4 separate regions of the Homo sapiens genome follow, and regions 1, 2 and 4 are each linked to region 3. Evidence: fine-mapped expression QTL. A gene starts in region 3. Each other region holds a variant in brackets. All regions are shown on one strand. Distances are between the middles of the regions.

Evidence for each region. PIP is the estimated chance that this variant, and not a neighbour inherited with it, causes the effect. A credible set is the group of variants that fine-mapping cannot tell apart.
Region 1: its variant is the best candidate, but not a certain one, in a credible set for the expression of EPS15 in whole blood (TOPMed, PIP 0.62).
Region 2: its variant is the best candidate, but not a certain one, in a credible set for the expression of EPS15 in whole blood (INTERVAL, PIP 0.59).
Region 4: its variant is the best candidate, but not a certain one, in a credible set for the expression of EPS15 in whole blood (INTERVAL, PIP 0.77).

The regions. Positions count from the first base shown.
Region 1 is chr1:51,559,650-51,562,257 of GRCh38, reverse strand. EPS15-AS1 (EPS15 antisense RNA 1) reads right to left here. Exons shown (of 5, transcript NR_183651.1): 2 at 1,235-1,376. It also overlaps a transcript of OSBPL9 not described here and the pseudogene CALR4P. Among named protein-coding and RNA genes, the nearest start is that of EPS15, 42 kb to the right of the region's middle. The variant G/T (reference allele first, on the strand shown) is at 1,546.
Region 2 is chr1:51,450,881-51,453,488 of GRCh38, reverse strand. The region is part of intron 8 of EPS15 (epidermal growth factor receptor pathway substrate 15); the gene reads left to right. Among named protein-coding and RNA genes, the nearest start is that of EPS15-AS1, 66 kb to the left of the region's middle. The variant C/A (reference allele first, on the strand shown) is at 1,390.
Region 3 is chr1:51,517,849-51,520,456 of GRCh38, reverse strand. EPS15 (epidermal growth factor receptor pathway substrate 15) reads left to right here and starts at 1,191. Exons shown (of 25, transcript NM_001981.3): 1 at 1,191-1,258. The coding sequence starts at 1,226. It overlaps EPS15-AS1 (EPS15 antisense RNA 1), which reads right to left and starts at 2,185. Exons shown (of 5, transcript NR_183651.1): 1 at 2,011-2,185. It also overlaps a transcript of OSBPL9 not described here. RefSeq lists silencers at 968-1,157, 1,308-1,777 and an enhancer at 1,008-1,936.
Region 4 is chr1:51,344,996-51,347,603 of GRCh38, reverse strand. It overlaps a transcript of TTC39A not described here. Among named protein-coding and RNA genes, the nearest start is that of TTC39A, 16 kb to the right of the region's middle. RefSeq lists a silencer at 2,339-2,608. The variant C/T (reference allele first, on the strand shown) is at 1,346.

The sequences.
Region 1 (2,608 bases), 42 kb before region 3:
ACTATGCAGTACCAAGGGGGGATCGTGCTAAACCATTTATGAGAACTCTGCCCCCATGATCCAATCACCTCCCACCAGGCCTCACCTCCAACACTGGGGATTACAATTTGACATGAGATTTGGGTGGGGACACAGATCCAAACCATATCAATTGGCCTTTCTGATTGCATGAGATCAGAAGAATGACAAAATACTAATGCCTTGTTCACTGGTTCTTTGCTTAGGGAGAATGGAAACCTTGGATCATTGAAAATCCCAATTACCAGGGGGAGTAGATTCATCCCAAAATAGACAACCCTAAATATAAGCCTGACGCCACCATTTGTCACTATTATAACATTAGTGTTCTCAGCCTGGACCTTTGGCAGGTAAAGCCCTCTGAGCTCAGAGCCACTGAGCCACAGTCTCTCAGTTTTCACAAAGTAGAAAGAGCCTCAGGCTGGAAATCACAAGACTTGAATAAGTCTTGGTCTTTATAAGCCTCAGACTGCTGATCTTTTAAATGGGGGCAGTCATAGTCTTCCTAATAATTATAAGTTACTAAAATTTACTGAGTCCCTCTCATGTACCAAATGCTGTATTAAAGACTTTGCATATGCCATTTAATTTTCACTAGCGAGTCTCCTACTTGTTTTTTTTATTTTGGAAAAATTTAATATATTCTCTATTGTTAAGTACACCAGATGCTGGACTTCTGAAACAACAATTGTACTTCAGCATAATTGCATTTTCTACATTTTTTCTGTTCATGTTGCTTGTTCCTCTGATTTACCTAGAATCAGTGAATCTGAAAAACAAAAAGATTCTTTAAGCACCTGGTAAATTTCAGGTCCCACATTAGAAAATGAGCAAGCATCAATAATATTGATGGGGGTGAAAATATGACACTGTGAAAGTCTCCTACTTCTAAATGTGAAAAGGAGACTCAGAAAAGTTAAATAATTTGCCTGAAGACATACATCTGTTAAGGTAAGTAGAAAAGCTAGAATTTAAGTACAGCTCTTTTTGTGTTTGTTTGAGACAGAGTCTCACTTACTCTGTCACCCATGCTGGAGTGCAGTGATGCAATTTCAGCTCACTGCAACCTTTGCCTCCTGGGTTCAAGTGATTCTCCTGGCTCAGCCTCCTGAGTAGCTGGGACTACAGGCATGCACCACTACGCCTGCCTAATTTTTCTATTTTTAGTAGAGACAGGGTTTCACCATGTTGGCTAGGCTGGTCTCCAACTCCTGACCTCAAGTGATCCACCGCCTCGGCCTGGGATTACAATCGTGAGCCACCGTGCCCGGCTGAGTGCAGGTCTTTCTGATGTCAGATTCAAAGTTCCAATACTTTACGCTGCTTCTGCTGGTCCTACGTGATCCTTGGAGGTGCTTCTAGGGATAAAGGGAAATCAGAGATGTGGTAAAACTCTGAAACATTAAAATTCCCGGACAGATGTTAGGGGTGATTGCCCCAGCCATGATGATAAGTCCTGACCCAGCTTCCCTCTCTCTGCCAGTCTTCTTTCCTTTAATTGGAAGGTAAAAAGGAGGGGACCAATAC[G/T]CCAGCCTTTAAAAAGTTGTTGTCCTCTCCATCTCTTTCTTCTCTGAGACTTATTAAGAAAGATGGGGAGGACTCCTCCCCAAATCAGGAGAAAAGAGAGTGGCTCAAGGCCCCAGAGTAAAGGCCTTGGCCATGATTCCTCCCAGGAGTCTGTTAGAAACTATAATCTACAAAGTCCTGGATGAAGAATTCCCCTGGAGAGGAAGGGAACTCACTTTTGTTAAACACTGGCCTGGGGTGAGTGCTTTACCTACATTACCTCCCCAAATTCTCACAACTCTATAAGGTAAGTACTATTATCCCTTATTATTTCCTCATTTTATGTTTGAGAGAATTGAGACTCAGAAACACCAAGCGACATGTCCAAGAGCACACAGCTAACGCATGGTAGAGACACGATTCAAACATAGGTCTGTCAGCCTCTAAAGCCTTTGCTGTATTGATTACACCCACTGTACAACAGAGCCTCTGGAAGCCACAGCCACCTGTCCTTGGGTATATCCTGCAAAGTCCCATGGCCACGTGTCTCAGTGTCTCTGATCAGTGATTTCTACAGTTCAGAGCCACCGAAGGTTTCTGGGACAGACGCCCTCTATTTGAAGCTTTCTTAGTTTGTTTATTTATTTTCTACTTTATTTATTTATACTTTCTTGCTTCTCTGGCTTAAGAAGACCAACATAGGAGTACAAGGAGGTCATGTATGTAAATAACCAGGAGCATGTGTTGGGGAGTGGGGAAGGGTTCAGAAGAAAAGGAAGGAAGGGAGGAAGGGACACATTGTATCTTTCTTTTCTTTTCTTCCTATCTAATTTGAAGAATGTGGATACACTTTGCATTGTTATTTTTTTTTTACAGTTGTCTCTTTTTAATACATAAGGAGAACTTTCTACATCTTGTAAACATATGTGACCATATTAATATGCCTAATCTGATTATTTCATTAAAATGCTTATCCCCCCACTGAAAACATTAAGGTACACATTTTAAACTGTATCTTTGTTCATATACAAAATTAAAAGTATTTGACACTAATTGCTCTGGGTTCTATCAACCTCTGTAAGCA
Region 2 (2,608 bases), 67 kb after region 3:
GTGGCATACTTTTAATAGGAATAAGTACAATATAATAAGAAAACAAAATCACAACCCAGCAGTATTAAAAGTATTCTGTTCACTTTTGCTCTTTTATTTGGAGGTATAATTTTTGGCTTTAGTTTTGCCAGGGAAACTATTTTCAAGGCAACATGAAATTAATAATATATATTTTTAACTTTCATAAAAATGTGTTGTCTATTGGCAGCAGATGGCTAACGTTGCTTTTTCGCTTCTAGTGTCCACTTTTCCAGGAAATGACTCCCATCTGCAGCAAGAGAAGTGCTGACTGTTAATGTGTACACTAGGCACTTCTCTTAGCTCAGTGCCATTCTGACAATTTCACAGTACATATATTGTGAATTTGGTTGGAAGTGTATGTTAGTCAGATTGTTTTCTTTCTGGAGTTTCAGGCTTTTGGAAATAAAAAGTTTGTGTGTTTCTAAAACTGAAATTGAATTCTTCTAGGTTGGCTAGTGAAAAAGGAGAGGAGAATTCTTGGTTAAGTGTGGTTCCTGGACAAACAGCATCAGCATCATTCGGGAACTTGTTAAAAATGCAAATTCTCAGGCCCAACCTTGCTGGTTAGAAAATTCTGAGTGCAGGGGCCAGAAATCTGTGCTTTATCATGCTGTCCAGGTAATTCTGATGCCTGCTAAAATTTGGGTACCAATGGGTTAAGGTTTAGTTTTATCGCTTGTAAAGGACAGCGTGGTATTGTAAGATTACATATGTGCTGCTAATAAAGCTGATCAAATTTGGAAAAAACAAGAGCTTTGTAGCCAGAAGATGTTGGTTTGAACCCCACTGTATCACTTCTTAAAAATATTATATTGGGCAAGTTACTTAGCATCTTAGCTTCAGTGTGTTCATTTGTAAAATGAGATTGGTAATCCTGGAAATCAGTGATGAATGTTGTTGCATTGAGTGCTCAATAAATAAATTGAGGGGTTGGGTGTGGTGGCTTACTTGATCCCAGAAGTTTGATACCAACCTGAGCAACGTAGTGAGACCCCCATCTCTGCAAAACATAAAAAAATTAGCCAGGCATGGTGACGTACGCATGTAGTCACAGCTACTTGGGAAGCTGAGGTGAGAGACTCACTTGAGCCTGGGAGGTTGAGGCTGCAGCAAGCTGTGTTCTCGCCACTGCATTCCAGCCTGGGCAACAGAGTGAGCCTTTGTCAATAAATTATTAAATAAAATAAACAAATTAAATAAATATATAAATATATGTGAAAGCCCCACAAAACTTAATATATGATTATATGCAAATTTTCTCTGGAAGAAAAAATTTAACAAGAGACTGGGCTCAGTGGCTCACACCTGTAATCCCAGCATTTTGGGAGGCTGGGGTGGGTGGATCGCTTGAGCTCAGAAGTTGGAGAC[C/A]AACCAGCCTGGGCAACATGGCTAATCCTCATCTCTTTAAAAAAAAAAAAATTAGCTGGGTTTGGTGGCGTTTACCTGTAGACCCAGCTACTTGGGAGACTGAGGTGGGAGGAAGGCTTGAGCCCAGGAGACGGAGGTTGTAGTGAGCCAAGATTGCGTCACTGTGCTGGGCAAAAAACAAACCAACCAAAAAAAAAGAAATAAAAATTTAAGAAACATGCAAGCTTTCTTTTCGTGGTTGCTGGACTCTTTCTAGAGGTTCCAAGTTAGTTTGAGTGATTTCATATGCTAAAAGATAGTTATGGAAAACTTTCATGCTCTGAAAGTGTTGAAGGTACCTTGAATGCTTTAAAATGAAGAGAATATATTCTGGGACAGTCTGTATGCAAATTTTTCCCATTTTGTGCAAGTGCTTTATGTATTAAAAATACTTGTCATGGTTCAAGAATCAATATAAGAAGATATACAGTGAAAAAAATCTCATTTCCACCCCTGCTCTCAATTGCTCCATTTATCCCTATTCTATGCCTAATTTTCTTAATTTCTTATTTATCTTAGAATTTCTTTTTTTTTCTTTTCTTTCTTTCTTTCTTTTTTTTTTTTTTTTTTGAGATGGAGTCTCTCTCTGTTTCCCAGGCTGGAGTGCAGTGGCACAATCTCAGGTCATTGCAGTCTCCACCTCCCAAGGTCAATCAATTCTCCTGCCCCAGCCTCCCAAGTAGCTGGGATTACAGGCATGCGCCACCACGCCTGGCTAATTTTTTTGTATTTTTAGTAGAGATGGAGTTTTACCATGTTGGCCAGGCTGGTTTCGAACTCCTGACCTCAGGTGATCCACCCACCTCAGCCTCCCAAAGTGCTAGGATTACAGGCGTGAGCCACCACGCCCAGCCTATCTTAGAATTTCTTAATGCAAATATAAACAAATATAACTAATTATTTCCTCCTTACCACAAAAGATAACCCACTAAACACACTGTTCAACACTATACTTTTTCATAGTTAACAGTTTATCTTGGATACCTTTTCACTATGAGAGCTCCATGATTCTTTTTTTCCTGGTTAGCATTATTCAAGGCTATCCACAACAAACTGCATCCAATTTAAGTATATAATTTGATGAGTTTTGGCAATTATATGCCTGAAGGCACCACCACAGTTAAGACACACAATGTTCTTTGTGATTTTTTTAATGCTTTATAGTATTTCATTATATGGA
Region 3 (2,608 bases):
TTACAGATAAGGCAGAGTATAAAAACGGTCACATCAGAACAACTTAGAGGTGGGGTGTGGAGTTCCTAGAAGGCTTCTTGAAGTAGGTGGTATATACTCTGAGACTTTGAAGATGAATTTCAAGTAACTGGGTATTCCAACTGAAGGTTGGCAGCATCAGAAGGTGTAGGATGTGTTATGTTTAATATAGGCAGGAACGAAGGCCTTTACTGAGCATGCACTGTAATGCTAGGGTCTGACGATATAGAAATATATTGAAAACAGTTCTTGCCATTGAGGAGCTCTTAATCTAGAGGGATAGATAGGTGTAAACTGTCATTAGGGTGATGACTTCACAAGGTAGAGAAGAAAGGTTATAAAGGAGAGTGTGTAACTCTGACATAAGGAAGAGAAAAAGATACTTTGCAAAGGAGGTGAAACTTGAATTATGTCCTGAGAAAGAAGGAGGAGTTTGCTAAGTGGATGATGGGAGAAGCTAGGAGTGCTACAGGCACCAGCGTTCCCTTGTTAAACAATCTAAATGTGACAGGCACCAGGCAAATACATTTTTGCTTCCCCTTTCCAAATGGATTTTGGCTGTGGGAGGGAATGACTTAATGTCTTCTTTTCCAATATACTAGCAGATGGTTAAATATTTACAGTTAGACTTGGATTCTAATTCAGCTATATAATTAGCTGTATGACCTTAGTAAGACACTTATTTGTGTTTCAGTTCCTTCATTCATACAATTCAAAAAATAAGAGTCTAGTACAGAGCCTGGCATATATAAAGTGCCATTATTATTTTCTATCATTATCTCATTTAGTCTTTGTAAGTAACTGGGCCTCTAGTTACAATTTCCCCCATTTTTCAGAAGCAGGAGCTCAGCGTAGGTAGGTGGCCTGTCTGAAGTTCACAGGTCAATCTGCAGTCGCCTCCGCAGCCCGTCCGCTTTAATTTTATGTCCGCGCCGGGTTTTCCAAGGCGGCCCCGGGGGCAGGCTCTGGTCCGGTGGCCGAGACTCCGGCGCCAGGGTTTGGGCGGCGCCGCGGCCGGCTCCGGCGGGCGGGCAGGCGGGCGGGGCCAGGCGGGGCGGGGCGGGCGTGGGGAGGGAAGTTGTGGAAGTTAGGGGAGACGCCCGCCCGCCCGCCCCGGCCTCGCCTGCGGCCGCTCCCTCCGCCTCCTCCCCGCCCCGAGCCCCAGTCAGCCCGTCTTCCTTCCCCTCCCTTGCATGATGGAAACACCATGGCTGCGGCGGCCCAGCTCTCTCTGACACAGGTAACGCCACACGCCCGTCCGCCGGGCTTGGCCGGCCGGTGCCCCCTCCCCCACCGCCCTCAGCTTCGCCGACTTCTTGGCTTGTGGGCCAAGCAGGCAGCTTCTTGGCTTGTGGGCCGGGCGGCCGGTGTGTGTGAGGGAAAGCGGGTGCGACTGCGGGAGGGCGCCCTCCGGAGCCGGAGCCCCCCTGCGGCCGCCGCGACCTCGCCCAGGGTCGTCGGGCGCCTCCTGCCCCGCCCCGCGCGGCCCTCGCCGCCCTCCGCGCCGCTGCCGAGTGGACTGTGACCCGGCCGCGCTCTGCCGGTGCCGGGCCGGCTCCCGCGGGGCAGCTTTCACCTACCCAGGAAGTTTCCTCCCACAGGGCCGCACGCATCCCAGGTGAGCTCCTGTTGAGCTCGCGCGGGCCGGCCGCACCCCCGGGCCGCACGAGGCTCGCCCGCCAGGCCGGCTGCGCGCCGCCCCCAGTAGGAGTTGCCTTCCAGAGCCGGACGCGCAGGCCCCCCAAGCCAGTCTTTCCTCTCCAGACCTGCCTTTCTCCCAGGGTCCGACGGAAGCCCTCCCTTCCCAGAGTTTAATGTAGTTAGCCTCGCCTCCAAAGAAGTCTCATCCTACTCAACTACCCACTCTGCCGGCCCCTTCCTCCGTTCAGCCTCTCCCCCCTCCTGATCAGGTTTCCTTCTGGGTCAGACCCCCAATGCAGCCTTTTGCCACCCACGTCTGCTTCCACTTCAACTTCCCCTCGGGGGGCTCACGCCTGATCGCTGTCCAGGTGGATCCCTTTAACGGGTGTGGTGGCTCCGCCAGTCTTGGTGCCAGGAACGGCCTCCCGGGGAGCACTTTTCTTGGGGGGAATCCTCAGCAAAACCTGTTCTCGAGCTTCCCTCTTGCCTCGTTGCTTCCTGTCAAAGTCCAGTCCTTGTGCTTCTCAGAAAACCTCTAAACATCACTCACACTGGGAACCTGGTCCCTCCCTCTCTGTAAAGAAGCCAATTACAATGTAAACATGGTGTCCGGGATGATAAGGTGACAGACACCTGCCAGTTCCTTCCTGCTCCTGTGACCCAAACTCTCCCCCGCGTCTCCTCAGACGGTTCTCTCCAGAGCTGGTGGCGCGTGCTTCCCGATTGGGGCCCATCCCGTCTTCCTTGCCTGCATTGTGGTATCTCACTGCCATCTTGTACTCCTTGGCCTAGATTCGTCGGTGCTTCTAAGGCTTTAGCGCTGGGATAGGGCAAACATTTCGGCAGTGGAGTTTTCTGTGTTTAAAATCAAGAGGCTTTGGGGTGCTTTGCCTAGCACTGTAGGATAGAGAGAAAAAAATGTTTTCTCAGAAACCAGGAGTCACGTACA
Region 4 (2,608 bases), 170 kb after region 3:
AGTAACTTGCCTGGTTGTGCAGATACCTAGTGGTGGGGCCAAGATTTTAACCTAAGCAGTGTGGCTCCAGTGGAAGGGAGGATGGGAAGAATAAAACTGATTCTACCTTGGGTTTATTACATGATTCAAAATAAGCTTGAAAAAGTGGCTTGTAAATGCTTTGTGCATCTAATAGCTTGCGTGGCAGGAAAACTAGGGCTAGGGTTAAGATATACATTCTCAAGTCGGGCTGTGTGTGTTGAGTCCTAGCTCTGCCACTTAACTAGTTTGTGTGATCTTGAGCAAATTAATTCCTACCTGCCTCACTTTTTCAACTATAAAATTGGGATTGTAAAAGAACATACATGTTAGGATTATTTTGAGGACTAAATGAGTTGGCACATGTGAAGAGTTTAAAATAGTGCCCAAGTAACATAATTCTAAACAGATGAGGAAGAAGAATAAGAAACAAGCCTTGAAGTTTAAGAACCCCGGGATTGAATCCCAGCTCCTGATTTGATCTTAGGAACATTTCTAAACTTCTGACCCAAATATTCTTAAAACAGTTGTCTAGATTAGAGGTAGATACGTAAAGGCTCTCTGCATAGTGCCTGCCATTGGGTAGAAGCTTGATAGGTATTAGCTCCTTCTTTATTTACTCACCATTGAGTACCTACTATGTATAGCAATAGTGCTGAGCTCTGTAGAAGACACATGAGATACTATCTGTACCTTCAGAGAGAAATCTGAAATACCATTGTAAATAACTTATACAAGGATTTTAAAATATGTAATGCTAAATGCTGTGAGAGAGACAAAATGTATCCTCTGAAAACGGAGAGACCGCTCTGATGGGGAGATCCTGGATGGCTTCCTGGAGGAAGTGGTGCTGGCTGTGGGCTGACAGGCTCGGTGAGATTAATCCTCTTAGTAAACTGGGCTCTGGGCCCATAGAAGGTCAGGCTTCTGAGGTCCTGTGGCTCTTCTTGCCTGCGAACCCAGGAGAAAGTTGGCTAAGTGCTCAGTGCTGGCCAAGCTGGACAAGGCTCTGGACTAAGGGGTTTGGGTCCCTGGGCATACTGTAACTGGATTTTCCAGATTTAGAAGCTCTAGCTTTGTGATCAGATAAGCAGTATTCCCCGGCCCTTGTTGATCTGCAAAGACCATGATATGAGTGAAAGGTCATATGTTCTCTGCTGCCTACCAGGGAAGAGTGAGAGAAATTGCCCAGATGGTCCTTAGAGCCTCTGCCCTCTGGGCAGCTTTGCCCAGGGCCTCCCACTCCGTGCTCAGCCCACCCATGGTCCATAGGCAGGGTGGGAGGAAAGCACCAGATTGGGCAGAGAAGCCTGGGTGTAAGACCTGA[C/T]TTCACAACTTGGTTTCAGGAAAGGTCGTTCACCCCTCTGAACCTGTTTCATCAACTGTAAAATGGGGATGAGTGAGTATGTAACAAGATGCAGATAAATAAGAATTGGTGTAAACTGCCTGGCTCAGGGCTTGACACATGAGAGAACACCTGACATGTGAAAACCAGTCACCACTTATTGGACACGAAATTTGTATTGCACAAGTACCTAGGATACAGACCCAGCCCAAAAGGAAACAAAAATGGGCCTTAGCCACCCTGCCCCTGCCCTGTGTTCAACCCCCACCTTCTCTGATGAGCTAAATCTCCAGGGGTCCCTGAATCCATTCTTCACACTGGAGCTGGAGCAGGCCTTCTCAAATGCCTCCTCACGGTGCTCCCCTGCTCCTTGTCCTTAGTTGGGCCTCCCATAAAAGCCCCTGGACTGCACGCCAGGGGATCCCCTTGCTCCAGAGCTGATTCTGCTTGGTGGTGGTAATTTAAAATAAAAACCAAAAATGTACGCAGCCTAAGATGAAATGTGGGGCTTCAAAGAAAGTTTACACTGGAGATGGGGCGGTGGCTCATTCTCCTCTGTCCCCCGACCTGCCACGGGGTACTGGACTCATAAGTCGGTGAAGTGGGTCACTCCAGGGCCTGGCCTGGCCTGCAGCCTCCACCCTCAGGCCCAGACAGCTGCTCTCCACTTCCCTGCCCATCAGCCCCCTGCTGCTGGTGCTCTGTGCCCAGCATTTGACTCGGTCCCGAGCTTCTGACCCCATTCCGGCGAGGCCCTAGCAAAGCTGGCTCTGTATGTAGGGAGGAGGGAACAGGGTTGGTGGTGCTGCTATGTCCCGCAGGGACCCTGGTAAGGCCATCGTGTGGCCCGTCAGTTTGGAGGCTGGGCTCTGGACCGAGTGGGACCGGCCGCTGGCCCCCTTGTGACCTTGGACAAAGCCTGGAGCTCCGTTTCTCCCGGTGCCCAATGAGGGGTTTCAGAGTGTTTGGGGTCCTTTCTGGTTCTGGGTGGGAGTGGGCTTGCCCAGGGACCTCAGGCCCGCTCTAGGGACACTTAAGCCCTTCCACTTTGGGGCAGGGAGGCGCAGGTCCAGGGCGGGGAGGAGCCACGGGTCCCGCCCTGCCCGCCCCGTCCAGGTGCTGCCACTGTAGCCTCCACGGCCGCCGCCGCCGCCGCGAGGGGCCGCCCGCGGCCCCGTCCGAGCCCGGCCCGCGCCCATGGCCTTTCTGACCACCTGGAAGGAGGCGGCCTCCGGGAAAAGCGAC